Regions from separate parts of the Homo sapiens genome. Here region 1 is linked to region 2. A link means that fine-mapping ties the variant in region 2 to the expression of a gene that starts in the linked region. Tissue or cell type: tibial nerve. Region 2 holds a variant in brackets; the other region holds the start of a gene. All regions are shown on one strand. Distances are between the middles of the regions.

What was found.
Region 1: VRK2 starts here. The variant in region 2 is fine-mapped to the expression of VRK2 in tibial nerve (GTEx, PIP above 0.99). The same link has a PIP of 0.9 or more in skeletal muscle.

The regions. Positions count from the first base shown.
Region 1 is chr2:58,038,861-58,054,574 of GRCh38, reverse strand. It overlaps VRK2 (VRK serine/threonine kinase 2), which reads right to left and starts at 7,769. Exons shown (of 13, transcript NM_006296.7): 1 at 7,707-7,769; 2 at 5,608-5,748. The coding sequence starts at 5,743. LOC107984043 (formin-2-like) reads left to right here and starts at 7,342. Exons shown (of 3, transcript NR_171623.1): 1 at 7,342-8,051; 2 at 13,022-13,083; 3 at 13,507-14,499. RefSeq lists a silencer at 7,517-7,786 and enhancers at 7,390-7,945, 7,937-8,056, 7,946-8,501, 15,343-15,392.
Region 2 is chr2:58,076,602-58,092,315 of GRCh38, reverse strand. VRK2 (VRK serine/threonine kinase 2) reads right to left here. Exons shown (of 13, transcript NM_006296.7): 3 at 8,178-8,227; 4 at 7,366-7,435; 5 at 5,890-5,977; 6 at 3,870-3,975; 7 at 2,593-2,685. Among named protein-coding and RNA genes, the nearest start is that of VRK2, 38 kb to the right of the region's middle. The variant C/A (reference allele first, on the strand shown) is at 9,721.

The sequences.
Region 1 (15,714 bases), 38 kb after region 2:
TCTTCTTCCTTATCTAAAGAAAAAAACCTAAAACACTTCAGAAGCAGAAGTCTATCCATATTTCATAAGGAAGCCAGAGCTCTCAAAAGCTGAGAATTCTTTTATTGTGTGGCAATAGAGGTGAGCTCATTTCAGGAAGAAGAAATTTCCCCACAGCAATATGTTTCAAATTAAAAAAAAAAAACCTTGACCACTGTAAACAGTTACAAGATAGTAACAGGTCCAGTGGAAGAGACATAATATATAAATGCACTGAAGAATAGAGTATTTTATAAATCTTCCCTTAAGGCAAAAGAATTTGACAGTAAAATGTTGAAAATAAAGAAGAACCATAATATAAAATATGCTTAAAAATGGATATTTAAAAAAATGAAAAAGCCAAGCAAAAGCCAAGTCTTATAAATCTCCCTTTTAATGGAAGGAACCCAAACTTTCTTAAACACCCAGATTTCTTAACTGATAGATAACTGGGTACTGCTATCTCTTTAAAAACTCAAAATTTAAATATAAACAAAATTAAAATACATCTTATAGAGACTTTTATTTCTTGTCTGTAAGTCCAACAAACGTATTAAATTTACAAAACTCCAAGTGATTCCTTCCCTGTTTTGAGTTTATATTACCTATTATTTATACCTTCTGGAGACTAATTTATCATAAACACTATAGTTTCTAGTCCAAATTATTCTCATTTTCACATTTATTCAATTCTTCTCTTCACTCCCACAGTATCATTTGCAAAATTGCCTAATAACAATTGCAGTGGCACCACAACGTTGCATTGTGTCAGATAAGGCTATTTATCTCAAAGCTCTCTATAAACACTACCAAAATAACACTTAATAATGTAATATGTAATGAAGCAATATGTATTCCAACACACTACTTTGTTGCTAGTATTATCACTGGGCTCTTCTAAACTTTATTCTGCATACCTTAAAATCAATCTATTATAGCTCACTATTTATAAAGAAAATAAAAAATTATTTTATGAAGAAGTAAAAACATTCTATGTATGTGGTTTATATTTACTTGTTTTAAATATAAATGTTTCCTTATCAGTAAAATAAATGATTTAAACTTTGGTAATTTCTAAAAACCTATCCGCCAACAAAAGATTCCTTCTATGTTTCTGAAGTACAAAATTAGGCTAATCCGACAACATGATCCAAAAATGTCTGGCAGTCACTTTGATGAAATTTAAACATCTGTCCATGGATAAATGATCTGATTTTCAGGCTTCACCACAGTTAACTTTAGTTATAATAATGTGTTATTCTTTATAAAAGCTTTGAGATAGTATCTTTATAAAAGATATTGCTACTGATGTCCTGTCAATAAAGCACATGCACATTCTTTTAGATGATGTCATGATAGGTGCCTTGTCTCAACTTTCCTGGTGACTAAGGATACTAATCTGCAGTAGATCGAAGAGTGACATCTATAATTATGGAAGAGAACAAAGCAAACTAGCTTGTGTGGGTTAAGTACTCCAATCTCAGTCTCAATTTCTCAGGCAAATAACTGTTGAACATCTATTCTGTGCTTGACACTCCAAAGATGCTAAATGGTCATCACTATGCCACCTTCAAAAAACTAAAACTGCTACAGATAAATCATATCTTTTACTTACATAATCAGCCTTCAAAAGAATGTGGCTAAAGTTTATCCTGTAATTCTGTTATTCTCAATTTTGAATAATTTCTGAAACCAATAGCTTTAATATCTGAGGCAGATTAAATACAGCTTATATGAGAACTTTTCACTACTATAGCAAATTTTAGGGGGAGCTTTTATCAGTTAGTAAAATGTCATAAAGTCTTATGCTGACATTCTCTATGTTCTCAGTTTTACCACATTAGTAGTTAAATCCACCAAAATTCATAGTAGAATAAATAGAAAATCCACCCTTCCAATGGAGTTCTTTGTCATCATCTTAATCCACTATGGCAGCATTTTTTTTTTTTTTTTTTTGAGACAGTCTCACTCCGTCACCTAAGCTAGAATGCAGTGGTGCAATCTTGGCTCACTGCAACCTCCTCCTCCCAGGTTCAAGCAATTCTCATGCCACAGCCTCCTGAGTACTGGGACTACACACACACATTACCACAACCAGCTAATTTTTTGTGTTTTAGTAGAGATGGGGTTTCACCAAGTTGCCCAGGCTGGATGGAGCTCAGGCAATCCACCCGCCTGGGCCTTCCAAAGTGCTAGGATTACTGGCATGAGCCACTGTGCCTGGCCCCACTATGGCACCAGTATTAAGAATGGGAAAGTCTATGGAAATAAATAACTAAATTACATTTATTAAATGCTTACCAAGTTCCTTAAAAAAATCTCATTTAATTCTCCTCACAATTATTATTATCACAATTATGCAGAATAGAAACAACCCAAAGGATTAAGTAACTAGATGAATAAGTGGCTTCATCAGGTCAGGATTCAGGTCAGATATGCCTAATGCCAAAACCTCTGCTATTATTTATGCAATTCTCCCGTAATTTACTTGGTTCTGTGTTATACCCAGCATTATAGTAAAATTCTAACCCTCAGTTTTCTCTCCTTCCTGATATTTAAAAAACTTTTTCATTCATTTGATACTAAAATGACAGCAATTTTTCCCATCCCCTAAACCAGTTTCCTTTCTTCCTTTTTCCTCCCCTTCTCTTTTCATATTCAAAGAAAGAACTTTGACTTTGTTCTTGTATTCAGACTTTTCTTTTCACTCTTTTAGCTATTTCTTATTAATGCTAGAGGCACATTATTTCTCCAAGTCAAGAGTAAATACCAAACTTCTCTGCCCCTTCCCCTTAACTGTAAGCTGCTGATTACCGAAAGGCCCTGGCTACTGATCTCAAAGCTAGAGGACAGTTGTACATGTACAATGAGCTAGACAGAGCAGCTAGTTTCTTCTCAGCCTTAGGCAGTAAACGCTGATCAAGTGTCTGCTGAAAGAGGGTATCTGGAAAGAATCGAAATGAATGTCACTGGACACAAAAGTATTCAGGAAAATTTGAATTTTACTGCTTCTTCTCTTCATTTATATAGAGGAAGTGATGAGAACCATGATAAAATGCAAAAACATGATGTAATTTCATATTGATTTGTTTGTATAGCTTTGAAAATAGTAAAAACTAAGTTTAGTGAAATTAAACTGATTCTATGATTCATTAGCATCACTTTTAATGGAACAGTTACAACATTTGGAACACACATCTTTATTATAAATTCTGAAGTACTGGAGCCTTTTTTCTGAAAATAGCTAAATATTTCTTTAAAGTCCTTCCTCAGTGGTGTGTACTTGCTAATCTTCCTAGGTAGGGTCCAGGTTCTAAAGTTCAGATACTAGAGAATGTTCCCTTACATATTGAACCCTGAAAATATATTGTAAAACAAACAGTATTATTTTGGTAATAAAAAAAAATAAGTAGGCTGGGCACAGTGGCTCACGTCTGTAATCCCAACACTTCGGGAGGCCGAGGTGGGCAGATCACCTGAGGTCAGGAGTTCGAGACCATCCTGGCCAATATGGCAAAACCCCGTTTCTACTAAAAATACAAAAATTAGCCAGGCAGGGTGGCAGGTGCCTGTAGTCCCAGATGCTTGGGAGGTTGAGGCATGAGAATTGCTTGAACCTAGGAGGTGGAGGTTGCAGTGGGCCGAGATTGAGCCACTGCACTCCAGCCTGGGTGACAGAGCGAGACTCTGTCTCAAAAAAAAAAAAAGTAAAAATATGTGACACTGTACTAGACTGAAAGAAGCAAATATTTTTCTGCATTTGAATAGGGACAAGTAAGTCACATGCCTATGCAAGTATATTCCTTTATCATAACAGTAACAATAGTGACTATGTGTACACATAGATACATACAGGTATACAGACATACACTATTTAATCTTAAACATTCACTTGAATTTAAATACATATAATATTTACATTTCAAGAAAATCAAAGAGATAAAATCAACACATCAATACTTTTCTCTAGTTCTTTGAAATTACTCAAATAATACAAATATTAGAAAACCAAAAGTGATAAGCTATGGAATTCAAGGCTATAGCTCAGCCACATCAGAAATAATTTATTCAACACTATATCTCAACCTTGAGTCAAGACAGTATACTAGAGATCTTAACTCTTTGCTGTAAAAGAGAATTCACTAAGTTCAAGTTTCAAACAATACTTATCCTCACATAGTCTTTATTTGCACTATTCTATACAGCAGCCACATGTAGTTACTGAGCATATGAGCCACATGGGCTAACTGGGCTCTTGAGACTAGATACACCTTGGATTTTGAAGACTTTCATTTAAAAAAGTAAAATATTTCATTTGTTTATGTTGAGAGCATATTGAAATAATATTTTTGATATACTAGATTAAATATTATTAAAATAATTTCACCTGTTTCTTTTAACGTATTTTAATGTGGCTCCTAGAAAATTTTAAACTACATATGTAACTTGTATTACATTTCTATTGAACAGTGTTGACTATGTCATTCAATCTAGCACTTAATAACCATAGTATTTTTTCAAGCAATTTCAAGCAAGTTCAAACCCTTTAAATGGGTCCTTTACTTGACTCATACAATTTTTTGTGCTGATCTTGTCTTTCCAACTAGAATAGACACTTAAGTATTTAATAAGCAGATATTTATTGACCAAACTTCATTCATTCATTCATTCAAAACTACAATCTTAATTTTATCAGAAGAGGATCTTTTATATTTCAGGATCCATGAAGCATGTTTTTCTGGAAATATGTGATGAGAACCCAAGATTCCCTCAACGGAGGTATTTTATCAACTCCTTAATCTCCTATAGAAATAGATGTGATCTCAAGTCTCAAGTGAGTACATTTAGGAGAATTTATCCTTGAGGGTATATTTTTAAAAATCACTACTATTTTCCTTATTTTATTAATCAATCTTTTAATGGATATCCCCTCCTCATTCCAACTCAATGATCCATTAAAGTTCAGTGTAATTTTTAAATGCTTAAATGCAATGTAAAGGCCTATCCAGCCCATGGTTCCTTACCTGTACCACAGATCACAGAAAATAATTTTGAGTGTTTATTTTTTCAATTATCCCAAGAATGGCACATCCCTAGGGACCACTCTAGATGCACGAGAGAGAAGTTAATTCATTTCACAGAATAGATGCCTTAAGTTTTATCTATGAATTCTCCAGTAGAGCCCAATTAAGAAATGACTAGACTCTTGTATTGCCTAAATATTGATTAAGATTCACAAACAGAAAGTGTTTTTATCTATACAGTTGTGGTTTCTCATCTGAAAAAAGCATGTTTCTAAGAAAACAAGCTCTCAAAAAAAAAGAAAGTTAGCATTTTGTCTGGCAGATTGTATAATTATGCTCTAAAAAGACTTCTAAGATTTACTCAGAAAAACATGGACAACAAGGAGTGGGTCAGTGATGTCTTGAACCTAGACACTGTACTCTATTATTACTTAATCGAGTACAATCATGAATTTTAATAAAGTACACATATGAATTCCATATTTCCATTCTTAAAATACCACTAAGTAATCACGGTTACAGTCACAGATATAAGAATAATTGTTAATTTAAGGTTTTACTTTACCTAAATATATCAATCCAAATCCTCCAGAGCCAATCTTCTTGCCCAGTACCCACTGATTGCCTTCCATATCATCCAGAACCTTGCCTTCTGGAAATGGAATAGGAAGTTTGTATTTTTCATTTCTTTTTGGTGGCATCACTTCTGTTGGCAGAAGGGGTGAGATAAATGGGTAAAAAGAAAAACAAACAAACAAAACTCTTAAAATACACTTCCCAAAATGTCTTCAATAGGGAACTTTCCCAGGTTCCCAGAAATTAGGATTCTAAAGTTAATTCAGTTTGGAAAAGCCCACACATTATATTCAAATTAGAAATTCACATACATTACAATACTGAGATCTAAGAGGTATAGATATTTTAAAAAAACAGAAGCAAACTAACCAAATTTCATCCAAAATTCATTTCGGGGTTCTATAGCACATATTAACAGTGCAGGACACACCTTAAGAAACACGAAATTAACAATTTCCAATGAAGAAAGAAAATAAATTTCATGTACATGGAAATATTGCTGTCACTGAGAATGTAAAATGTTAAAAGTGAGAAGGTCTTCAGTCACTAGAAAAGAACACAGGATTGGATTGGGAAGACACAGACAATGGCAATGGACATCTCACCACCGTGATACTAGGTACTCAGTAAACATTTGTTAAATGAGCCAGGGATTTTCACGGATATGTAACTTAGCAGAATACTAGGCCATCAGTTCTCGGGCTGCCAAAATATTCTCAGCATTTTGTCTTCTTACCCTCTTTCTCAGTTTATCACAGTGAAAACAGTCCTGCCTTAGAGATTACAACTGTGCCACCAACAACAAAAGCATAATCTCCACAGCACAGCCATGCAACTTTAATCAACTAATTATAATTGTACATAGGTTAGCAAATTTCTCAATGGGAAATTCTGAGTTAAAAGAGAAAATTTCTTAGGGGAAAATACATATGCCAGCATACATGCCTGAAAATAATTTAAATGTGAAGGTAACCATGATCCTCTAAGTATTTAAAACTATTAAGAGTTTCTGACATGAAAGTTAATTAAAAACGTATATACGTAAATGTAAAGTTTTCTTAATATAATCTTCCTAGCTTCCATAAAAGAAAGTATCTGTTTTTCCTTTAACGGGTTTTTCCTCCTTCACTTAACTGCTTTTTTACTTAGCAGTATTGTCCCAGGTAGAGTCGCTGCGTGTATCTTTAACAATATTCACCTTCCTCCTGATAGGCACACAAGGGCTGGGAATTTGGATGGTGAACTATGCCTAGAGCATTGATTGTATCATAAAGCAGGAAAAGTTTTTGTGGAGGTTTCCCTTGACCAGTACATTATATAGGCTGGTGCCTATTACAGATTTACTGATTTAAAACTTAAAGTCTCCAAAGTGTAAACTACTGATTAAGGAATAAATTCTAAATAATTATAAAAAAGATAAATACACTTTGGGGCAAGGCAGCGGCCTCAGGGCTTGAGGCGGTAAGGGAGACTCTACGAAATGTACATCCTGGGGGCGAGTCCCGAGTTCATCTGCCAAGGGAAACGACAGCCTCTCAGGGCCCGTCCCTGTCAGGGGTGTCCCTTCGGCTTCTGGGTACCTTCCCAGGGCTAAGATGAGTCCTCAACACGAGTTTCCGAGCAAACTGGTACCCAGGGGTTAACATGTGCCTGGGCTGACCTCCAACCCCGCCGCGGCCCCTGACCCTGCGGAAGGTAACGAGAAGCAGCGCGGCCCAGCCGCCTGGTCCGTCCGCCCTTAGCACGCCGGGGACCTACGGCCAACCCCGCGCCCCAACTTCCCGCCACAAGTTCTCTCTGCACCGGCAAAAAGAGAAACTCCACCCACTTTTCCGCTAACACGTCGGACCCGCTTTTGGCAAACGTGAGTAGAAGGGGACGCCTTGTTCTCACTCCCAGCGGGGAAAAAAGAACCAAACGCGGAAGCAGCGACTCTGCCCGGGCCGGAGCTGAGGCCCGGGGGCTGGGACGGCCCGGAGTCCCCGGCATCTAACTCCGACGGCAGCCCTTTTCCGAGCGGGGCCGCGGCTCCGGCACTGCAAGCGGAGGTGCCGCCCGCCACCCAAGACCCCAGAGCAAGAGACTGACCGGGCCTCAGGATCCCCCGTCGCCGGGCCGCGCGCACCGCCTCCTACCTGCCGCTGCGACGAGGCGGAGCCCCCGGGCCTACAGTCCCGCGGGGAGGCGGGCCCAGCACTCGAGCCTGCCCTCCCTAGGACCTGCCTAACTTCTCTCCAGCTGCGTCGGCCTCGCAGTGCAGCGGCCCGCGGAGCCTCACACAGGCCGCAGCCGGTTCCTTTCAGCGGCCTGTCCACGCCCCGGAGACGCCCAGGGGAAGGAGAGGGCGCGGCTACATGGGGAATGGGAGCTGTGTTACTACCTCCACCCTGGCCCGCCAGCGTCTGGACGAAGAACCGCCGCCAGACCAGTTTGGTACGAAATAAGCACGACATGCATTTGTGTAGGAGTGTTAGATCTCCTGTACCACAACCTGAGTACTACGAGCTTCCAAATGGCTAGTCCTTACCGAGCTCTCGCCGAGCAACTAACTATTGGTACTAGCGAAGACTCCAGTTAGGAGGGCCTGTATGTAACTCACCGCGTTTAAGTTCTCAAAGGCATATTGGTTCAGGACCTATTTCTGCCATTAATCGTAGGATAATTTAACACCGTAATTAACAAACTTCAGGTTTTTTTGTCTGTGAAATGGAAATAACCCTTGTTGTTAGATTATAAGGTTATTGGTTATAAGATTATGACAATAAGGTGAGGACTTTATTAAGCAGTTTTCTAATACATAAAGACTCATAGTGGCCAGGTGCGGTGGCTCACGCCTGTACTCCCAGCACGTTGGGAGGCCGAGGCGGGTGGATCATCTGAGGTCAGGAGTTTGAGACCAGCCTGGCCAACATGGTGAAACCCTATCTCTACTAAAAATACAAAAAATTAGCCAGGCGTGGTGGCGGACGCCTGTAATCCCAGCTACTCGGCAGGCTGAGGTAGGAGAAGCGCTTGAACCCAGGAAGCAGAGATTGCAGTGAGCAGAGAGCGCGCCACTGCACCCCAGCCTGGGCAGCAAGAGGGAAACTCAGTCTCGAAGGAAAGAAAAAAAAGACTCATAGTAAGCTTATATTTTAGACTAAACCAAACAAATGCTTAGACAAAGATTATTAATACGTCAGCATTCTACATAGTAACCACCAATAATTGGTTGGGATACAAATACTGAAAGGAAAATTAGAGCCCTTTAATGACTTTGATAGAATAAGGAATTGGGGCTCCCTACATCTTTCAGACTGTCACCAAAATGAAAGATGGCATGAGAAGACGTTTCTAAAAACAAACAAAAAAGTATTTTTAAAGAAACAGTCCATAGAATAATTGTGCCCTTAGTCATTCACTGGTCCAACAGTGTCCTTTCTTATTTTCTTAAGATATTTATATAACAGATGCATAATTACAGATATTTATGTAACAGATGCATAATAATCCTAATATCCATATTGGGTACTCTTTCCTCCTTTCCAAATTTGTTTAGCTTTCCACCACTTCCCCGGCTCCCTTTTGAGAAGAAACAACTCCAGTAGCAACCACAGCAGATTACTTGTAGGTGGTTCCTCTCCCTACAGGCATGTATCCAGTGTTAGTAAATCCTGTTGGCTCAACCTTCAAAATACATCCAGCATCTATCACTTAGCACCCTTACCTGCATTCTGGCCCAAACCATATTTTTTCTCTAGGTAATTGTATTACCCTCCTAAATGTTTTATACCCTCTTATCCCTTTAGTCTGTTCACAGCAAGCAGCCACATGATCCTTAACGCTTAAATAATTACTGAGCTTAAAACAATTCAGTGTTATTCCAATTTACTCACAATTAGCCAGTCTTCGCTATGACTTTAAACAGCATTTCTCAACCTGGGCACTATTGACAGTCAGCCTGGATAATTCTTTGTTGGGGGTTTGGGAGAAGGAGGAGGATTGAGAGATAGGCTGTCCTGTGCATTGTAGGATATTTAGCAGTATCCCTGGTCTCCTCAGCACTCCCTCCCACACAAGTTAACAACCAAAATATCCCCCAACATGACGAAATTTTGCCAAAATTGCCAGTCGTTGAAAAGAACACTGATCTACCTATTATGCACTCCCACTCCCCAATGTCCTATTACTCTCTTCAACCACAGTGGCCTGCTGTTCTCAAGAACTTTTCGCATTTACTGCCACCTGGACCACTCTCCAACCTGGTATCCGTATAGACTGCTCCATCACTTCCTTCAGGTCTTTATTTAAAAGTCAGTTCAGTGAGACCTTTCCTAAACATCCTATCTGAAATTTCAGCTCACCCACAATATTTCGTAGCCTCTTTCCCTGTATTTTTCCCAGTACCTACTGCTATACAGCAATATATTATACAGTTTATTATTTATTTTGACAAAAGACAATCTTTTTCAGTAAATTGTATGTTTCATGAGGTCAGGCAACATTTTTGCCTGTTTTCGTCACTACTGTATCCCCAACCCCTAGAAAGGATATGGGCAACCATTTCCTTCTTCAATGAATAAATGAACCATGCTGGCCCCATTCCAATTCCCATGATTGGTTTAGACAGTACAAAATAAGCATGTGCTGAGTCTAGGTAACGAGGTGAAAAGAAGTTTGCTGGACACATTCTTGGAAGAGATAGTCTCTGATGTGATGGTTAAAATGGCTGCAGTCATCGTGTGACCACAAAGATGGGAAAAAGTACTAATCTAAAGCCCCAGGAATGGCAGAATATTCAACAAATGTTAGAACAGCTAGACATCCATATATACAAAAAAAAGAAGAAAGAAAGAAACCTCAACCCTTAATTCACACCCCATGTAAAAATTTACTTGAAACTGATCATACAGCTAAATCTAAATACAAGATCTAAATCTCAAACTTTTTAGAGAAAACCTAGCAGAAACTCTATATAATCTTTAAATGTGTGCACTTATAAAGTATAAAAAATTTAAAAGCTGGAAACCTAAAAGAAGAAATTGACAATTTAACTTCATCAAAATGAAAAACTTTTGCTTTTCAAAAAATACTAATAAGTTACCAAGGATTTGGAACAACTTGGAACTCTCTTATATTGCTGTTGATGGTACAGCCACTCTGGAAAACAGTTTGGCAGGTTCTTATAGTGTCAAACATATAATTAACATACAACCCAGCATTCGCATATTTACCCAAGATAAATCTAAACCTGTATCCACACAAAGACTTGTAGGGGAATCTTTAGAGCAGCTTCATATGTGATAGCCAAAACTGGAAATAAATTTCCATCAACTGGTGAATGAATAAGCAAATTATACTATATCTACTATACAATGAACTATCACTCAGCAATAAAAAGGAGCAAAGCACCAATACAGTCAACAAGCTGGATGAATATCAAAAACACAATGCTATGTAAAAGAAGACACAAAGGAGTATATATAATATAATAATTTATTCGAAATCGAAGAGCTGGGATTGACTGCAAGGAGCTGAAACGTTGCAAATGTTAAATTTCTTTACTGTGGTAATAGATACATTATTATACATTTGTCAAAATTCCTCTAGTTATACACTTAAAATTGAATTATATATAAATTATGCCTTAATAAAATCGATTTAAAAGAATGGCAAAAGAGAAAGATAGGAAGATCCTGAGTCTTTGAGGCCATTATTGAACTACTAATTCAACTAATCCTGAACCACCATATTTTCATATTCATCCATGAAGTGTTAAGTGTTCTTATGATTTAAACCACTTAGCATTGGTTTTTATATTTCTTGCAGCCAAAATCTTCCTAACAGTAAAATAAAGTTTCAAGTTTCATAAGTGCCAATGATTTTTAAATGTTAATAAATTTGTACTAAATAAAAATGGCAACAGGAGCAGGTAAACCTATATTGAGAATATGTGTTTTTTTTAAGTGTTGGGATTTAATGCAGAATTTTATGATTCAGAGCATATTGCTGTGTGTATGTTTCAAGATGAAAACTGACAGAATATAGAAATACAAATTTTGGAACTAGTGAAAGAACATCTTCTGAATGAACATGATGAGAAACAAGAAAGAAAAGAGAATCTAGACATGAAAGCAGTGAAGTGTGAGTCATCAGAAAAAAAATATGGGGAAAACTAGGTTTTCAAACAAAGCTATTTTGATAGATCTTACAGGCTATGAATGATTCACCACAAATACACGCACACAAAAGGACTTTCTTGGCTGTATGCCAACTTGTAGGTATGGCATGCGTTCTGCTTTTCAAAGAACTGGGTGCTATAAAATGCTTACACTGGTTAAAAAGAAAAAGAAAAACCCAACCATTTAGTAAGCATACTTTACAAGGCCAAGATCATTTCAAATCAATTAAAATGTTAAAGATGATGCATAGACAAAACATTCAGAAAAAGCCAATTTTTGTTATTTAAAGTGAGATAAGGAGATCATATCAGTGAACGTGTTTTGCCTGCCAAAGAAGAGCTAGTATTTTTGTTCTGTAAAAATCAGGAGGCCATTTGCACTCATAAACTTACAATCTCTAAACAGCTAAGCAGTTCCTGACATAGAAATTTTGAAATTAATAATTTTGAAAATAATAGAATTCAGGTAAATGGAATTCCAAGCCCATTAGATAAACAATCAGACCAAGTATCTATGTCCTCTGCATTCTTTACATATAAGATCATTACAAAGTATAAACTTAATCATCCAAATGACATAATTCTTCATTGTCTATATAAATGAAGAATTAGAATATTAAAAATAATTTAAAATGTCATATCAATATGTCATGTAAACCAAAAAGTATCTGAGATAAGTCTCAATCAATTTAGAAGTTTCTTTTGCCAAGGTTAAGGACATGCCCGGGATACAGCCTCAGGAGGTCCTGAGAACATGTGCCCAGGATGGTTGGGCTACAGTTTGGTTTCGTATGTTTTAGGGAGACAGAAGACGTCAATCGATACTTGTAAAATGTACATTGGTTCAGTCTGGAAAGGCCCGACAGCTTGAAAGGGGGGTAGGAGGGGGGAGTTCCAGGTCATAGGTGGATTCAAAGATTTTCTGAGTTTATCTAAAGACCTGGAATCAGCAGAAAGGAATATCTGGGTTAAGATAAGGGGTTGTGGAGACCAAGGGTATTAGTTTACTGATGGAGCCTCCAGGTAGCAGGCTTCAGAGAGAATAGACTTTAAATGTTTCTTATCAGACTTAAAAAGATGCCAGATTCTTAGTTAATTCTCTTCTGGATCAGGAAAAAGACTTGGAAAGGGAAGGGGATTCTCTACAGAATGTAGATTTTTTCCACAAGAGAATGTTTGCAGGGCCATTTCAAAACATGTCAAAGAAATATATTTGGGGATAAACTGCTTCATTTTTTTTCAGGGCCTGGTATCTGTCATGTTGGTATCTTATTGCTACAAAAAGTCTGTCTCGTCAGTCCAAAGGTCTGTGCTTTAATATTAATGCTGGTCAGTTGTGTGGGAATTTCAAAGGGCAGAGGGTATGCATACCCAACCACCCATTTCCATCATGGCCTGAACTGGTGTTTCCAGTTAACTTTGGAATGTCCTTGGCTGAAAAGAGGGGTCCATTCAGTTAGTTCGGGGGCTTAGAATTTTATTTTTCATTTATAGTCAAAAGGCTCAATAAAAAATTTTTAAGCATATTAATTTGTAGAACCCTGCTGCCAAACAAAATGTAAATGTAAATATGTATCAGATTATCTCTCAAACAATTGAATGTAGTAAACCAAATATTGACTAGCCAAAAGTGGTATGATTCTTACCCTGTCCATTCCCCAAATACGAGCACCATAAAAGGTTAACTATAAGACTATATTTACACTCTACATCCTTTTTCCCCCCCAGTTAACATCCCTGCAGTAACCAAAAACATGAGCTGGATAAGGAGGAGAAGAGGAGCTGGCCGAATGATTTTTAAGCAGAAGCTGAATGTTCAATAAGAATAGAGTTGACACCTTCAGAGGAGAAGTAAGAAATAGTTTTCCTGTGTGTCATGTAAGTCATGTTTTTAGGCTTACCTTTCATGCAATTGCAACAACATCCTCTAAGGGTCTTGAACGAACCTTCTATTCCCCAAATATTCCTGACCATTCCCAATGACTATCTCAGATGTGCTCCATCACTTTGTCTCTCCTACTGTGAACCTTTTGGTTGGTATCTACTGTTGACACATAGCTTACCTAATGAACTAGGTGGAAGTATCTGGCTAATGTTGCTAGCTGCCTTCTTCCACACAGCTCTATCTCTGACATTCTGTAGCTTGCAAGGCATCAAAATGGACCTGGATTTTCTGCAGCCCTTAAGACACTTAAACCAAGTTGTGGTCCACACAGAAGCAAAGGCTTCTCTTGTCGCTTTGGGTCACAATTTCTCTTACTGCTTTACTACTTCCACTACAGGGGCTAACAAATGTTTTAATGTAAACAGTGTATTTAGGTTTTCCTCTAAGTCTCACTGCCAATTTCAGGACCTAAGCATGCAGTTGGGAGCTAGTGGACACGACAAGTGAAAGATATTATGTTATATTCAGATTTATTTTTCTTTAGATATCATAAAAGTAATTGGACAAACCTAGTCTTCCTGACTTCCCCTTCTGTTACCTGTTATATTGAGTTATCTCACTGAAGACTCCTTGTTATTTCAGGCAAATACACTCAGATGTCTGTGGATCTAGAAATGAGTGAAAAATATAGATTCCAGCTGAGAGATACACAATTATCAAATTCCTTAAGATATACCAATATTTAAATCTATTTATTATAAAATACATGCTTATCTGGGGAACATAGCGAGACCCTGTCTCTACCAAAAATTATTAATAAAAAGTAAAAAAAATTAGCCAGGTGTGGTAGTGTGTGCCTGTATTCCCAGCTACTCAGAAGGCTGAGGTGGGAGGATTGGGAGCCTGGGAGATTGAGGCTGCAGTGAGCTATGATCACAACACTACTCCAGCCTGGGCAACAGAGTGAGACTCTGTCTCAAAAATAAAAATAAAAATAAAAATAAAAAATAAATAAAAATAAAATACATGCTTATAGTAAATATTTAAGAAAATATCAAGAAGTAATTATAGAGGGGGAATTGCCCATAAAAAATTTTTAAAAATACTCTCTGTTAACATTTTAGTGCATTTCCTTTTAGTGTTTTATTTTTTATCCCGTAAAAGGTTTTAGGTTATATGCTTTCCACAGTTATACTCAAATTGTGTGTATATAATATTTTTATTCTGCTTTTTTCAATTAACAGTATAACAAACACATTTTCCCCCTCTCCAGTCATCAGTCATGATCCCCCATCCTTAAACAATTAGTCACTAAATCCTGAGTCTTTAATATGCTTATTGGGGTAATGAGTTGGGGAAAGACAAGGAGTGATCTCAGGAAGCCAGGAAATTCATATTGAAATAAAAAGAAATGCTAGGGAGAAAAATAATTAAGAAGGCTAGAGGAGAAACAGAAAAGACAAGAATTCAATCCTATTGGATGTAGGAGAAATTTTTAGGGAATAAGGAGAGAGGAATATGAAAGTTTTTTGTGGAGAACAGCTGCTCTGAGATAACTGAGACTGAAAGAGAAAGAAAAAGAGCATTTTTAAGAGTTGAATGTACTTCCCCTTTTGGCAATGTTGTGAGGAAGTGCAATTAGGATGCACATTGCTTTCGGTTATCTTTGGCTGCAGGAGAGTTGTTTCTTGGAATATGATCCTATGTGAGGATCTTTTCAAAATGAGGGTATAAACTGGCCAGGATGATGTAGGTTGTATAATAGCTTTTAAAATTGTTTTATTTTTACGTAAATCAGATAATACCTTACTTGCTGTTTCACATCTTGATTTTTATCAACTAATAGTATTGTGGCTTCCCCAACCTGCATCAATATATAAATATTTTATCATATTCCAGTTGTACATGTCTTCTAATATTCCATAGTGTAGATGTATCATCATTTAATCGTTTTTATTTAGATGGATATTTAGGGTTTTTTTGTTTTATTCCAAATTATCATGAAAGCAGAATGTTGATCAGTCTTATTTCATCAGCACCTGTAGTAGTGG
Region 2 (15,714 bases):
ATGTTAAGTGAAGGAAAACAGACCCAAAACAGTACATACCTTACAATTCCACTTATATACCATTCCTGAAAATGTAAAAATATAGGGACAGAAATCATCTCCTGGGGCTGGGAGCAATGCCAGGAGAAGGGGACTGACTCTAAACAGGAATGAGAGAACTTTTGGGAATGAAAGAAATGTTCTACATCTTGGTGGCAGTAGTGGTTACATGATACATACATCTGTCAAAAGATATCAAACTGTACATTTAAAAGCGTGACATTTACTGTTTGTAAATTATATCTCAAAAAACCTAATCTTTGAAAAGTATGCAGATATTGCCAAATTCCCTTCCACTAACTTTCTTATACCATTTAATTTACATTCCCAAAGGGCATTCTAAAAGTGCTGGTACCTTTATCAGCCTCAATATTATCAGACTATTATTTTAGACCTCTCCAATTTGATAAGTCCTTTAAAAAGGGTGCCTCGCTGTTTTGGTCTCCTTATCTTCTCATTTTTCACAAAGGTAGCCTTTTTTCCTGTTTCTAGGACAGTCATATTCCTTCTCTGTTCTGTTTATTCATTCTTTTCGATCATCGCTTTAACAAGGTATTTAGTGTTTTTCTTAATTTTTTTTTTAGTACCGGCTAGATATTCTCAAATATTTGTTATCTATCTATTTCCCAGTTTCTCATTCACCTTTCATTTTGAAAAAATTTTTATTAAGAAATTTAACCAATGCAGAGATCAAATATTCAATTACATTTTTTCTAATTTTTTATAGACTCAATCATTTAACTCTTTAAACGTGATAATACAGTAACAACTAGGTATATTGTTATTTAAGTTTAAATTAAGTTAAATTAAAAATTCAGTTTGTCAATATTAATATTTTAATATTAAAAATATAATCTACATTTTTTAAACAGACTATATTTTTTAGAGAAGTTTTAGGTTTGATTTAGGTAAATTTAGAGCAATGTAGGTAAAACTGAGTGGAAAATACAGTGAGTTCCCATATACCTCAAGCCCACACAAAGTCTCTCCGCTATCAACATCCCTCACTAGAGTAGCACATTTTTTATAGTGAATGAACCAAGAATGACAATCCTTATCATCCAAAAGCCACAGTTTACATTATGTTCACTCTTGGTCTTGTCCATTCTATGGATCTTAACAACCAAATGATGACATGTATTCACCATTATGGTATCATGCAGAATAGTTTCACTGACCTAAAAATCCACTGTGCTTCACTCATTCATCCTTCCTCTCCCTTCTAACCTATGGAGATAGTAAAAAATTGATCTTTTTACTGTCTCTATAGTTTTGCCTTTTCCAGAATGTCATATAGTTGAAATTGTATAGTAACTAGCCTTTTCAGATTGGCTTCTTTTACATAGTAAAATACATTTAGGTTTCTTCCATGTTTTTTCATGGCTGAAAAGTTCATTTCTATTTAGCAATGAATAATATTCCATTATCTGGATGTATCAGTTTATCCATTCACCTACTCAAAGACATCTTGGTTACTTCAATGTTTTGACGAGTATGAATAAACCGACTACAAGCATTCACGTGCAGGTTTTTGTGTGGATGTAAGTTTTCAACTCATTTGGGTAAATACTAATGAGCACAACTGCTGCTTGGTATGTTAAGAGTGTCTAGCTTTCTAAGTAACTGCCCAACTGTCTTCCAAAGTGGCTGTATCATTTTGCATTTCCATTAGCAACAAATTTCCATGAGCAACAAATGAGAGTTCCTGTTACTCCAAATACTCATCAGCAGTTGGTACTGTACTGACCACGTTTTAAGTACTTAGCCACATACTGCTAATGGCTACCATATTGGACAGTCAAACAGAATATTTTCATCATTACACAAAATTTTAATGGAAAAGCTTGCTTAAAACTTTTTTTTTTTTTTTTTTTTTGAGATGGAGTTTCTCTCTTGTTGCCCAGGCTGGATGGAGTGCAATGGCACCATCTCAGCTCACTGCAACATCCGCCTCCTGGGTTCAAGCAATTCTCCTGCCTCAGCCTCCTGAGTAGCTGGGATTACAGGCACCCACCACCACACCCAGCTAATTTTTGTATTTTTAGTAGAGACAGGGTTTCACCATGTTGGCCAGGCTGGTCTCAAACTCCTGTCCTCAGGTGATCCACTCACCTCGGCCTCTCAAAGTGCTGGGATTACAGGCATGAGCCACCGCGCCCGGCCTCTCTGCTTAAAACTTAATTGGTTATACAGTAGGAAATGATGAACTAATATGACAGTGTTTTAACCTCTACATAAATCCATCTCTACTCCCACTGGATTTTGATGGTTCTTTGCTTATCTATATTTGCTCAGAAATTCAAATTCCTGCTCAGCCACTTCTTAACTGTGTGCCCATTAACATATTATTTAACCCCTCTGACTCTCAGTTTCTCATCCTAATTACTCATTAGTTTGGTACAAAGATTAAATTAGATAAGCAGGTAAGATAAATTACAACATTCATCATGTTACGCCCTCATTTGTAAACTCTTCTGGGTTAGAAGTTTGTTTTCTGAATGTTTCAGTTTCATACATTAAAGACCTTTATTAAAAGCAAAAGTATGTATTTACCTGGTCTGGATTTTTGTAACCCAAAAGTAGATTTGCTGCTTTTATATCACCATGAACATATTCATTTTCATGTATATATTCCAGTACATCCAACTGTGAAAATAAATAGATAAAATAAGGTTTACTGCTATTTAGAACTCATGATCAATTTCAACATTTTGAATATAGAATAACATGGGTTTTTTCATATTAACATTGACAAAGCGATGTATTTCACAATTACTGGTTAATTATTCTAAAATATCACATCTTCTGGTTGCTCATCCTAGAAAAAAGTAAAATGATCCTCAAAAATCAAGTATTTTAGTTGAAGTTCCAAAGGAAGAAAATCAAGATTCAAAAATGCTTATGCCTAATTCCTGATAGCCCAGTAGCCAAACCGCACTGCACAAAGAGGAAAAACATAGCATAAAATCAGAGATCTATGGTGAAATAATCTTGAAGCCCACTCAGCAATTCCTCACCTAAGCAATAATTATAAATCAAGCCTTGAGAATCTCAGAACAAAATGCCATGTCCATGAGCAAAGGGAAAGGTATTCTTCCTCTGTATGGTAATAGAAAACTCCTTAGCTTCATCTCTAAAGCCCTTCAGCCTTGCATGTTACATACACTTAGTACTCAATAAACATTTGCTGGCTTCGAGGATGGATAAATGAGAAAATTAATGCATTCTATTTGCTGCATTCCAATCTGGCATAAGCAGCTTCATGCTACTCAAAAGTGAAAAAATGAGACTTAAACAAACCAAATACAAACATATAAGACAAATATGTAGTATAAACAAATGTGTGCCTGAGTGCTATTAAGAGTTCGTTGCTTCTGCTTTGGCAAAGTATATTTTATTCATTGTCACAACTAATTATTGCCACCATCCCAAACTCATAATAAAAACTTCATAGCACCCCCCTACCATCACATGTTTAAAATGTCTGACAATATATTTTGCCATAATTTGCATTGTTATAACTGACAAAAGAAAGGTTATTCTTACAGCAATGAAAGCTTGTTCTGGTATGTAAAACAAAGCTCTAAGGAAAAAGAAGATCAGACTGGAGAACCAAAGCCTAATTGAGTTTGCAGTGCCATACACAGCACATTCTGTCACTTACAGAGCCCATTGTTATCAATTTCACCAAAATAGCCTCTACTCCTAATAACTGATGTCTCTAGGGCAATAATCCTTCATTCTCTAATAATTCCACAAAGGGAAAAGATTTCTATATTGCAAGAAGTAAACAATTTGGAAATGGAGCATGCGAAATAAGTAATTCTTACCATTCGGATACCTAATTGCAGGACAGTTGACTTTTTAAAGGTACCATTCTGGCCTGAGATCTTCTGTAAATCTATTCCTAGTCTTTCCATTACCATAAATCTGTAACTGTAAGAAAAAAGCATCAAAAAGAGATCATCCTGAGAAAGTAATGCTTGAAACTGTCTATTTAATTTGAAACAAGAAAAATTACGCTCAACCTAACAACTAAGTATAATGCAATCTAAACCATTAGAGAATGAATGCACGTTCATAATTCTGCTATTCTTTTGCAGAAACTGCTCAATATTTACTTTGCAGCTGATTTTCTATAAGAGAATGCTGTACTGAACCATTCACACTGTTTTACATAATGAAAAAATCTTTCTAAATTAGATAGTACTGAATGCAATTCATTTTGACTCCATGACTTTCTTGCCATATGGCCTTGAACAAATTATTGTACACACTTGATTTTTTTTTTGAGACAGAGTCCCGCTCTGTCACCAGGCTGGAGTGCAGTGGTGCAATCTCAGCTCACTGCAACCTCCACCTCCCAGGTTCAAGCGATTCTCCTGCCTCAGCCTCCCAAGTAGCTGGGACTGCAGGCATGCACCACCACACCCAGCTAATTTTTGTATTTTTAGTAGAGACGGGGTTTCACCATGTTGGCCAGGATGGTCTCGACCTCTTGACCTCATGATCCGCCTGCCTTAGCCTCTCAAAGTGCTGGGATTACAGGCATGAGCCACCGTGCCCAGCCACATGAATTTTATATTTGTTTGTTTCTTGATAAGATCATATATACCGTCTCTATACATTTATAAACATGTCTTTAAGTGCACTTCTTCCTTTTCTGTTCTGTTTGGCACCTTCCATACCTTCTTTCCTTCCCTTCATTTATATATCCACATCAGCCCCTATTCTATATCTATGCATGCATACACAAACACACACACTTAGGAATTTGTTTTACAAAAATGTGATCATATTATAAGTATTTTCTCCATCTTACTTTTTTCAATAGTATCTCATCAAAATCCTTCTAAGGCAACTAGTATAGCTCTAATGGACTTCTTTAATGGGCTACATATGACATGATATGGATGTATCATGATTCAATCAGCCATTCAGTCCCCCAGTGGCAGTCCTTTACTTCAAGATTACTGTTTGCTCATTTTTTTAAATTTAAAGCATTTAGAGACCATTTCAACAAAGTACTGACATCTGAGCTTATTCTCTCATCTATGGAATAAAAATAATATCACCTATTTTAACAGGCTATTCAAAGGACAAAATAAGATAAAGTATATAAAAGTCTCTGGCACAAAAGGGTAAATATAAAATGACACACTTTTTTTCTTTTTTCAAACACTATTAATAAATTATATATAGGACTAGCCATATTTGGTGGTTTTAAAGATATTTCTATAACTTATTTGTTGTGCTTCTCCTCAAGAGATAGAACTGAATTCTCCTCTCTCAGGACCAATGGATCTATCTAGTGACTAGCTTCTAGCAAAGAGAATAAAGCAGAAGCGATAATATCCCTTTTAAGATTAGATTACAAAAAACGATGACTTCCTTCTTGAATGCACTTGTGTGCATGCTCTCCCCGTCCCCCAATTAATTGCTCTAGAGAAAGCCAGCTATTTTTCATAACACTCAGGTAGCTTATGCAAAGACCCACATGATCAGGAAGTAAGAAGGCCTGCCAACAATCACATAAGTAAATTAGAAGTAGATCTTCTTAGGCCTACCAGTAGCCACATGAGGAACCCTGAAAACAAATACTTCCCCAGATGAGCCTTGAAATGAATGTAACCCAGCAGACAGCTGACTACATATCCTTATTAGAGATCCTGATCTAGAATCATACAGATAAGCCACTTGCAGTCTCCTCACTCACAGAAACTAAGACAATACAAGTTTGTGGTTATATGCCAATATGTTTTGGTAATTTGTTACATGGCAATAGTTAACTCATAGACCACATAAGGAATAGTTATAAAGAAATATTTGATTATAATAATTCCATTTTACCTTCTTCCCTTGAATTCAGTCAGACCAGATCCATAAAACAGAGGAATTCCTAAATAATCAAGTTGTTTGCGTTCTATCCACTTTTTGACTACAAAGACAAATTTATTTTTAAAAAGATTCATGTTATTTGAAAAGATACTTGTCACCTTTCTACAGACAAATTTATTTAGCTAACCAAAAAAGTAATTAGATCTTCCTAGAAGATAATTTTTTTTCAATCAAACATCTCTATCTAATGGCCTCAAACTGTTACCACTATAATTAACAAAAAATTAGAAATTTTTAAATTAAATCAATAAAAACAAGTCATAGGCTTTGTATATTGATACCATATATATTAATGTTTCAATCTATAAAAAGAATTCATTATCTTATATACTAGCTAAATTTCTAAATATAACATATGTTAACCACCAAAAGATCAGTAGAGAGATGGCTTTTTCTTCCCTATTACTTCAAGATTTAAAACCATAATGGACCAAAAAAAAAAAAAAAAGAAAAAAAAAGCAGAAATTGGGCAGAAAAACCATCTTACTTTGAAATTACTTTATACAAAAACTGGTTTTGATTAGTTTACAAAAAATCAAATCCACTTAAATAAAGTTAACTTTCATCATTTTTTTCATGACTCTAGCCTATGTTTTTTATGTTTAAGACAGCTCTACTGATAAACAATCAAGTTTAATGGATTCTATTTGTCACTGTGACATAGTTTAAGCAATTAGTAAAGATTACAGTCTTAATGTTTAGAAGACTTTATTAAGAAAAACTAAGTTAAATATTGAGGTCAGACCCATCACTCTTATTCTTAAACATGATGTAAAGGACCTTGACTATACAGTCATTACTCCTGTCTACTTCTTTAATGTTTTTCTTAGCCCATCTATATCACATTTATAAAATGCTGTTATTTTTCCTCTCTGCTTATATTCATTTCCCATTCAAGTCTTCTAACTGGTCATTCTTACACTTGGTATCCAGCTCCAATTAATTTTCCAGCATTCAAGTTTCTAACATTTTCTTAAACATCTTAAAGTTTAATCATTTTCACATTTCCACACACCTTGCCCCAATCCATTCTACAATCGTTCTTTTTTTATACATATATCTACTTCCCATTTTAATGTTTTTTCCTTATAGCCGTCCTATCCAAATGGTTTACTGTAAAAGAAATAATTTCATTCTACTATCTTTTACACTTAGGGAACTCTTGGTAGCTTAGATTAACAACCTAACATTTTATGTAAAGTAGTAGAAACAACTTTGACTTAAAATATATAACCCATTATGTATGTCATGTCAAGATTTGTATACCATCTGTCTTGCTTTTATATGTTGTAACAGTTAACTGTATCACTTTACAATAAAATTTCTATTGAAAAGAATTTTCCAGAAGGCCAGAAAAAGACCAAAATATCAACACTCACTTTAGCAAGCACATATATGGAAGTAGCTTGCTTTGCTAATTTTACTTACTACAGTCTTTTTTTGCAACTCTCTGATAAAATTTAAGTTCTGAAAATAACGGGCCATTTTCTTGATATTCCTATAAAAAAAAGAATAATTAATTTTACTAGAAAAAAATAATCCCAAAGATGGAATTGTTATTTCAACTGTGAAAATATGAACATATATATGTAGTATATAATAGTACTTGAATCACTTTTTATAAAACATAGGCACCAGATTTCCACTAAAAATCTCAGAAAACACTAAATAAACTTGAAGAATCTAATTTTTAAACGACATATTGTACCACTATCCCTATACAGTCTTACACATAAAAGTAGTTTTCTTACAGAGAACACTTACTAGAAGCACTGAGAACTGTATACATAAACATATACAACACTCACTGTATACCAACATATACATCCAGGTGATACACAGCAAACTCTCCTTGTGGTCCACTCACACATGATACCTTTACTGAATGGTCTACTATATTTCATTCATTATACTAGGTACAGGGGACACCAAAAAGAAATAAAACCCTATGCTTGCCTTTAAGGACCTTACCATCTTGATTAGAGAGGTGGAGAGGGTGGGAGGGCATTTGGGAGGGAAAGAGAAAGAATAGCTAGATAGATAACACACCAGGGTAATAGCTGGCAATACAGAAAAACAAAGGTTCTCCAGTTTTAATGTTTTAACAACGTCAAAACAGATGATAACATTAGGTTTACTGATAAGGCAATAGTTACAAAAATTAACGTGAAAAACATTCTTAAAGCAGAAAAGGAAAAAGTCAAATATATGTGAAATACAAATCTATGAGCAACACTTACCACTTTTACTACATGTCTTGCATCTTTCTCTGGTTTATTTGTGGGGAAAGCTGCAGACAAAAAAAACACACAATGGAGAAAAATAGTTATTCCCAATTACTGAATACCTACCATATCCCAAACACTATGCTAAGCATTTTACATATGTAAGTTTATTATGTCATCCCAACAACCTTTTATGGTAGTAGGAATCAATCATCTCCATTTTATACAAGATGCTACTGAAGTTTGAGACGTTGAATAAATTGCTCACTAAGAGGTAATATATTAGAGACAGAAACTCAAATCTGCCTGACATCACAGCCCATACACTTGATCATAAACCATATTTAAATATTTAAATACAGAATCAATAGACAATATGAATCATATAGATCCAAAATGTGGGGGGAAATATTTTATAGATATATGGCATTAAAGCCAATATATAATACACAGTAAAATCCATTGATTCAATTGCACTAAATTAGAACTCATAATGATTCAGAAATAAAAATCGATTCAATTTAAGTAGAAAGTTCAAAACAATTTATACTTGACAAAATTCTAGAACAAGCAAGGTTAAAATGAGAATAAAGTCTTTAAAAATTTCTTCTGAACCTGCTAATCAATTACTTTTACATTAAAGAATACATATCTCATAAATTCATTTCAAGTTACCTTACTTCATTTAATTCTTATTTTCCATTTGTTGTTCAGATGGTATAACCCTACTTTTAAAAACTCCAGTGTTCACATTTTAAAACAAATTAATCTTTTCCTCTACATTACCTAAATTATTAAAAGATTGTTTTCAAATCTCAATAAATTTACATGTATATTTATTTGTACTGCAAAAGACTAAAACTTCGTCATTTGTTCATTTGTTCACTCTCCATCCATTCATTCCTTTACTCATTTAAATAGCTAAAATATTTATCAAGAAGCTAGAATATGCCAGGCACTGTGTTAAGTGTCTGGATGATATCTGAAGGAAAGGGAAAGGAAAAAAGGTGGAACTAGTATTGACTACAATTGAAAATCAGTAAGAAACAGACTTGAGAACAGGATCAAATTCTTGAGATACAATATATTTTTATATATTCAATATATTTATTAAAATGCTGTGTCCTATTATTAACATTGTCCTTTTCTTTCTTCTAATTCTGTCAGCTGTTCTCTTTTTTCCATTAATTCACATCTTAGATATAAATATGTCACAAATTTTATTAAAATATATAAATTGTACATTACAGTTGAGCCAATCATACACAATTTTTTAACCATTCTCCAGTTTTTAATTATCAGTAATGCTACTAACCAGTTGAAGAAAGTATTATTTCAGTTCTAGCTAATATTAAATTGTAAACCCAGACCTCTTTACAATAACAAAGAAACTAAACTTACTTATAGCACTTAAAATTATCTTTTCGCCTTCATTCATGTTAAGTTATTTCATTTTTACCCATGCAATAGTCCCAAGGAAACTGCAGGAAGAGTGGATTAGCCAGATCTACTTTCTTCCAAGAAGAAAACTTAAGAAAGTATACACAGGGGACAGAGT[C/A]CAGTCTTGGTATAGAAGAAGTGGTGAGAAAACCTTTGTTCCCACCCTATGACAAACTATTTTACTAGTATGGTTTCCAAGGCTAAGGAGAAATATCCTGTTCCAACCTTGGCCCACATAAAACAGTACCTACTTTAGGCACTTGTCTTTGCTACCTGAGGTAGATGTCAGTAGAAAGTTTTGCCTCTTGTCTAAAAGCAAGTGACCACAGCAGCAAATAAATCTTTAAGCCCAACAGAATGTAATGAGCTAAAAAGTACAGAAGAAAATTGGGAGTTTCAAAAAGATAAATAACAGATTATGTTACCACTGGAAAAAAAAGATGTCCAACCAGTCCAAGGCCTGACTCCTTGCCTATTTCAATCATTATATCCCTAATACTTTATAATCTGAATTTTCCTTTCACATTTTGAATGAACATAATCATGTGTTGACACATACCTGAAAATCTCTACGGTCATCACTTGATAGCTACACAATATTCTCTATAAGCTTCCAAGTCAGATTATATTGGAGGGTCTAAGTCTAAAATCAATAGACTAGAAAGCTCTTAGAGACGGGTGCTTCATATGAACAAAGAGATTGTTCTGGTTACCACGGGGGTCTTTTTATAGTAGAATAAATATTCAATTAATAAAACAATTATTTTCTACTGTAAGCCAAGCCCCATTATAGCTAGTGAAATTAAATGACGAAACACACACACACACACACACACACACACACACACACACACACGGACATGGTATATGCTTTTGCTGTCTGGTGGAGAAATCTAAGATGTCTTGGATTATAAGATGCATCATTAAATACATGTTCATCAAATACTCATACACAAATGTAAAACTGCAATCTAGAATACGGTAGACTGAAAACATTGACAAAAACAATACACAATGTAGAAAAAACATAATCAGAGTTAAAATGCTATAATGCCCTTGAGTTATCCAAAAAAGTAGGAAAGTGATTAACCTTACAGTTTGTTAAATAGAATGAATACCTTGAAATTTTAAGGGTAAATGCTAAAATAACAGAGGTTCATAACTCCAAAATCAGTAGAGGAGCAAAGAAGATAACAAAGAACATCTAAACAATTTAATAGATGGCAAGAAAAAAAGGTTTAAAGAAAAAGAAAACACAGTTAGAATAAATAAAAAAATACAAAATATGATAAAATTTAAAATACCAGAATAAATCAATTTTTAGCCATACATTTTTTCATATGTTAACATCTCTGAAATCTGAATGCATCTTAAAAGTGATGACATCTTACAGCTGCTGTTGAACACACACAGTTATGACACAGTTTTTATTGCTTATGCACACACACACTCAATCCTGTCTGTCCATTTGTCTTTACTTAACTGAGTTATGTACATAGCTGATAGTATTACATGTGGAGTTTAACTTAATGATTTGGCACTGAGAAGAAAAATTCTTGTGTATGTAGAAAAGGTAATTAACCAGACCAAAACAGAGCAGCAGGCCATGAATTTGATATCAATGAAAAAAATGTTTATTAAGATATGACTGCAACAATTGAGTATTCTGAGTTCCTTAAGTAAGACAAAGTTTAAGGGTATTCTGTCATAGTTTAATGGGCAGCATTAGGTATTAGATCTAAATCAGGTCCTACAGAAACACAAAAGAAATTACACAAGAGGAAGTAACAATTCTGAATTTTTTAAGCATCTAATATGGGCTGCACATATGTACATAATATCTTAGATTTGATTACATATGTCAGTAATTATAATAAATTTAATAAACTTAAATACACTAAGTTCACCAGCTGAAGAAATAAACTGTCAGACTGCTAAAAATATAAATGTATTTATAAGAGACAAACCTAGAATCTAGTGATGCAGAGGAACAAAGTAAAAATATAGAAAATAAATTAATAAGTACAAACTAACTTTAAAAGACTAGAACAAATATTTTCAAAACCAAATAAATCTCAGGAAAAAAGAATGATTAGATATGAACTTAGTCTAACCTAATCACAAAAGGAATGGTGCAACAGAAAGATAATAATTATGAACTTGAAATCATCTAAAAATGTAATTCAAAATACATGTCAAAAACTAGCAGAATAACAGGAAAAAAAATTAACAACATTGCAACAAAAATAGTGAAAGATTTTAATACAGTCCCATAATGTATAGGCAAGCAGACAATAAATACATTGAAACAATGCAATTAAGTTTTTTCTCTACATGCCAGATTTTTAAAAACACTAATAATTAAAAACATTCTTTTCAAACCCATCTAAAATATTTTTTTAAACTGTCCATATTTTCACCCAGAAAACAAGTCTCAACAAATACCAAGGCATATTATTAAAGCTACGTTCTCTGGGGAAAAAGGAAATCACAATGGAAATCAGAAAATAGATAGGACTGAATACTAAAAATATCATATAAAAACTAGTTAGAATGCAGTTAAAATGTGTTTTTATTACTTGTCTTCCTCTGCTAGAATGTAAACTCCACAAATAAAGAAATATTTTTGCTTTATTCAGATGTGTTCCAAGCACCTAAAATAGAGCCTCAGGCATGTATTAAATATTTGGTGAATAAATTAACAAATAAAAAAGTTACCTGGAGAAAAATTTATAGCACTAAATATTTTGATTTTAAGAAAACTAAAAAATTAGTGAGCTAAGTGCTCCCCTTAATAACTTAGAAAAATGATGACATAAATAGAAATTAATAAGAAACTGAAAAGGCCTACAGGAATAATCTCTCAGTAGAAATGAGGACACCTAGCAACCATATTATGGCTTCTAAATATCATTTTCAATGAAATGAATCAGGGCTCCTTGGAGAAATGGCTGATTCCAGAGTTGAGACAGAGAAAATAAAACTAAGCAAATTAAGCAATAAAATTTATAATATTAAGTTGGTGCAAAAGTAATCACGGTTTTGCCATTGAAAGTAATCATGACTGCTTTTGTGCCATCCTAATACTAATGAACTGTAACCCATAGGAAAAAAAATCCATTGTCTACTGATTTAAGTAAATAAATAAACAAATAAATGAGAGAGTTGATACAGCTCTTTCCTGCAGCTGAAATAAATTAATAAATATAAATTAAGATATGTAGAAGAAATGATAAAAATAGAAAATCATCATTTGGCAAATGTCACAGTAATAATTGGGGCAAGTAATAATTGGGGCAAGTCGTTAATAGATATTAAAACAGATAGGCAAATGGATGATTAAAAGCAACATAATGCAAATACATTCAATGTCTTCCCACAAGACACTTATTAATTGTAAATGGAAAATAATGAATTTATGGCAGGCTAACCTGGCAAATATCACTTTAATTATTAAAAGGGATCAAAGTTAATGTCACTAATAATGATATACAATAAATCATGCACCTACTGATAGTACTGGGAGAAGCAAAATATCATTTCTATGATATTCTTACTAAATAACACATAATCTGAATTTAAAGCAAACCCAAATTGAAGGACATTCTACAAAATACTAGCTGGTACTCTTCAAAAGTGTCAACCTCTTTGCAAATCACCTAAGAGGTAAATATACAGAATATATAAATAACTCCTATAACCCAACATCAACAAAAGTCCAGTTTAAAAATGGGCAAAATCAGCTCAGTGCAGTGGCTCATGCCTGTAATCCAAGCACTTGGGAGGCCGAGGCAGGCAGACTGCCTGAGCCCAGGAGTTTAAGACCAGTTTGGGCAACACAGAGTTACCCTTTCTCTAAAATAATAAAAAATGGGCAAAATACTTGAACAGCTATTTCTCTAAAGATACATACGAGTGGCCAACTTGCATATGAAAACATGCTCAACACCACTAATCATTAGAAAAACGCAAATCAAAACCACAATATCACCCCCTATCCATTAGGATGGCTACTATAAAAACAAACAAAATTTGTTTTAAATTTTGAAAATAACAGATGCTGGCAAGGATGCACAGAAATTGGAACTCTTGTGCACCGTTGATGGGATCATAAAATTACCCCATCACTATAAAAAATGGTATGGCGGCTCCTCAAAAAAATAAATAAAATTACCATATGATCTAGCAATCCCATTTCTGGGTATGTATTGAAAATAATTAAAAGTAAGATCCTGAAGAAATACATGCACACCCATGCTCATAGCAGCATTACAGACAATTAGCCAAAAGTAGAAGCAACCCAAATGGCCATGGACAGATAATTAAACAAAAGGTGGCATATACTTGGAATGGAACATTAATCAACCTTTAAAAAGAAGGAAATCATGTCACATGCTACAACATAAATGAACCTTGAGGACATTAGGCTAAGTAAAATAAGCCACACCACACACAAAAAGACAAATACTATATGATTCTACATTTATGAGGTATCTAGAGTAGTTAAATTCATAGAAACAAAAAAGTAGAATGCTGGTTTCCAGGTGCTGGGAAAAGAGGAAAATGGAGAATTACTGTTTAATGAATATAGAGTTTCAGTACTGCAAAATGGGAACATTCTGGAGATCTGCTGCACAACAATGTGAATATACTTAACACTACTGAACTGTATATACAAACACAGTTTTAAAAATTCTGCAGCCTTACGGGCTACCAAAGACAAGGATTCTGAAAGAGGGCAAGCTAAGAAGCTATCACATTGGCCTGAGAAGAAAAAGAGTTCTGTCCAAGAAATGACAAAACTATGTTGCCAGCTATCTCTTTGCTGGAAGTATAGAGACATCTAGGGAGTTAACAATACTTAGACAAATTTCCATGCATGAAGAAGGAAGAGCAACAGAATTCTACATGGTATTGTTGGCCTTATCCCACTAACAACAGAACTCTACAGTAAATTGTGGCAGTACGCACATTATTTTTCAATAGGAAGAAGAATCACTAGGATAAGTTCAAGAGAACTGCCAGAGAGGGTATGGAAGGATGTGATGAAGTGAGAAGTCTCCCAGAAAATTACTATGCTTTGATTATTATGGAAATATCTTTAGTTTAAGAGTGGTCACTTTTGGGGGCCAGATGACACTTCTAATCCCATTTAAACACCCAAAAATATATTTAAAGAAGGTTAAAAAAAAAATGGAGGAGACGCTTAGAGGTATAGGTTCTTTGCAGCCTAGTCTAACTTTTTCTAAGAGACAGAAGAATAACTCACCTACACAGATTGTGGGTAGGGGGCAGGAATTCTTCAGATAAGACTGGTCAATCAATTAGGATTTAGGAAAAATATCCTGAGACAACAAAGGCCTAGGATCAATTCAACAAATTAAGAATCCGAGGACTTGTGTGGAGGAAATCATGATTCAATGAACTGATAGGGTGTTCTAGGTTCTACACAATGTTTGTCCTTTGTATTTCAAGTTCTGCTTACACTAAGGTATTTAAAGCCTATAAAGAAAATATTTCAATAAATAATTTAGAGGAGAAAAAAAAGAGCGCTAAGCTCATAAAAGACAAAAAAAGATTGAAGAATTTTCCCAAAGGGAGTTACAGAGACAATGATAACTACACATATTGTGTCATCTTGGATTTTGAACCAAAAAAGGACATTAGTAGGAGAACTGGCAAAATTTTAATGAAGTATATAAATAGGTTAATAGTATTGTATCAATGCTAATTTTCTGGTGTTGATAACTATGTAATGTACTATGTGCTATTTTATAATATATCACCATTTAGGGCAGTCGAGTAGAGAATATGGAAACATTCTTTTTTTGCAAGCTCTTTAAAATTTAAAAATTAAAAGTTACAAAATAAAATTTTAAAGTATAAAAACAAACAAAATAGGTGATATTCAAGATTTCTCTTTAAAAAGGTAACAATCCTCTTACAAAATTGTGCGAGTACTGGAAAGAGAGCAAAACCATAGATGTGCATGAGATTTTGAAAAAAACTAATGATAAACACTATCATCTGTAAACTTAAAAACTTAGAAAAAATGACAATTTCCTAGAAAAAAATATAATTTACCAAAATAATTCAAAAAATAAAAAACCTA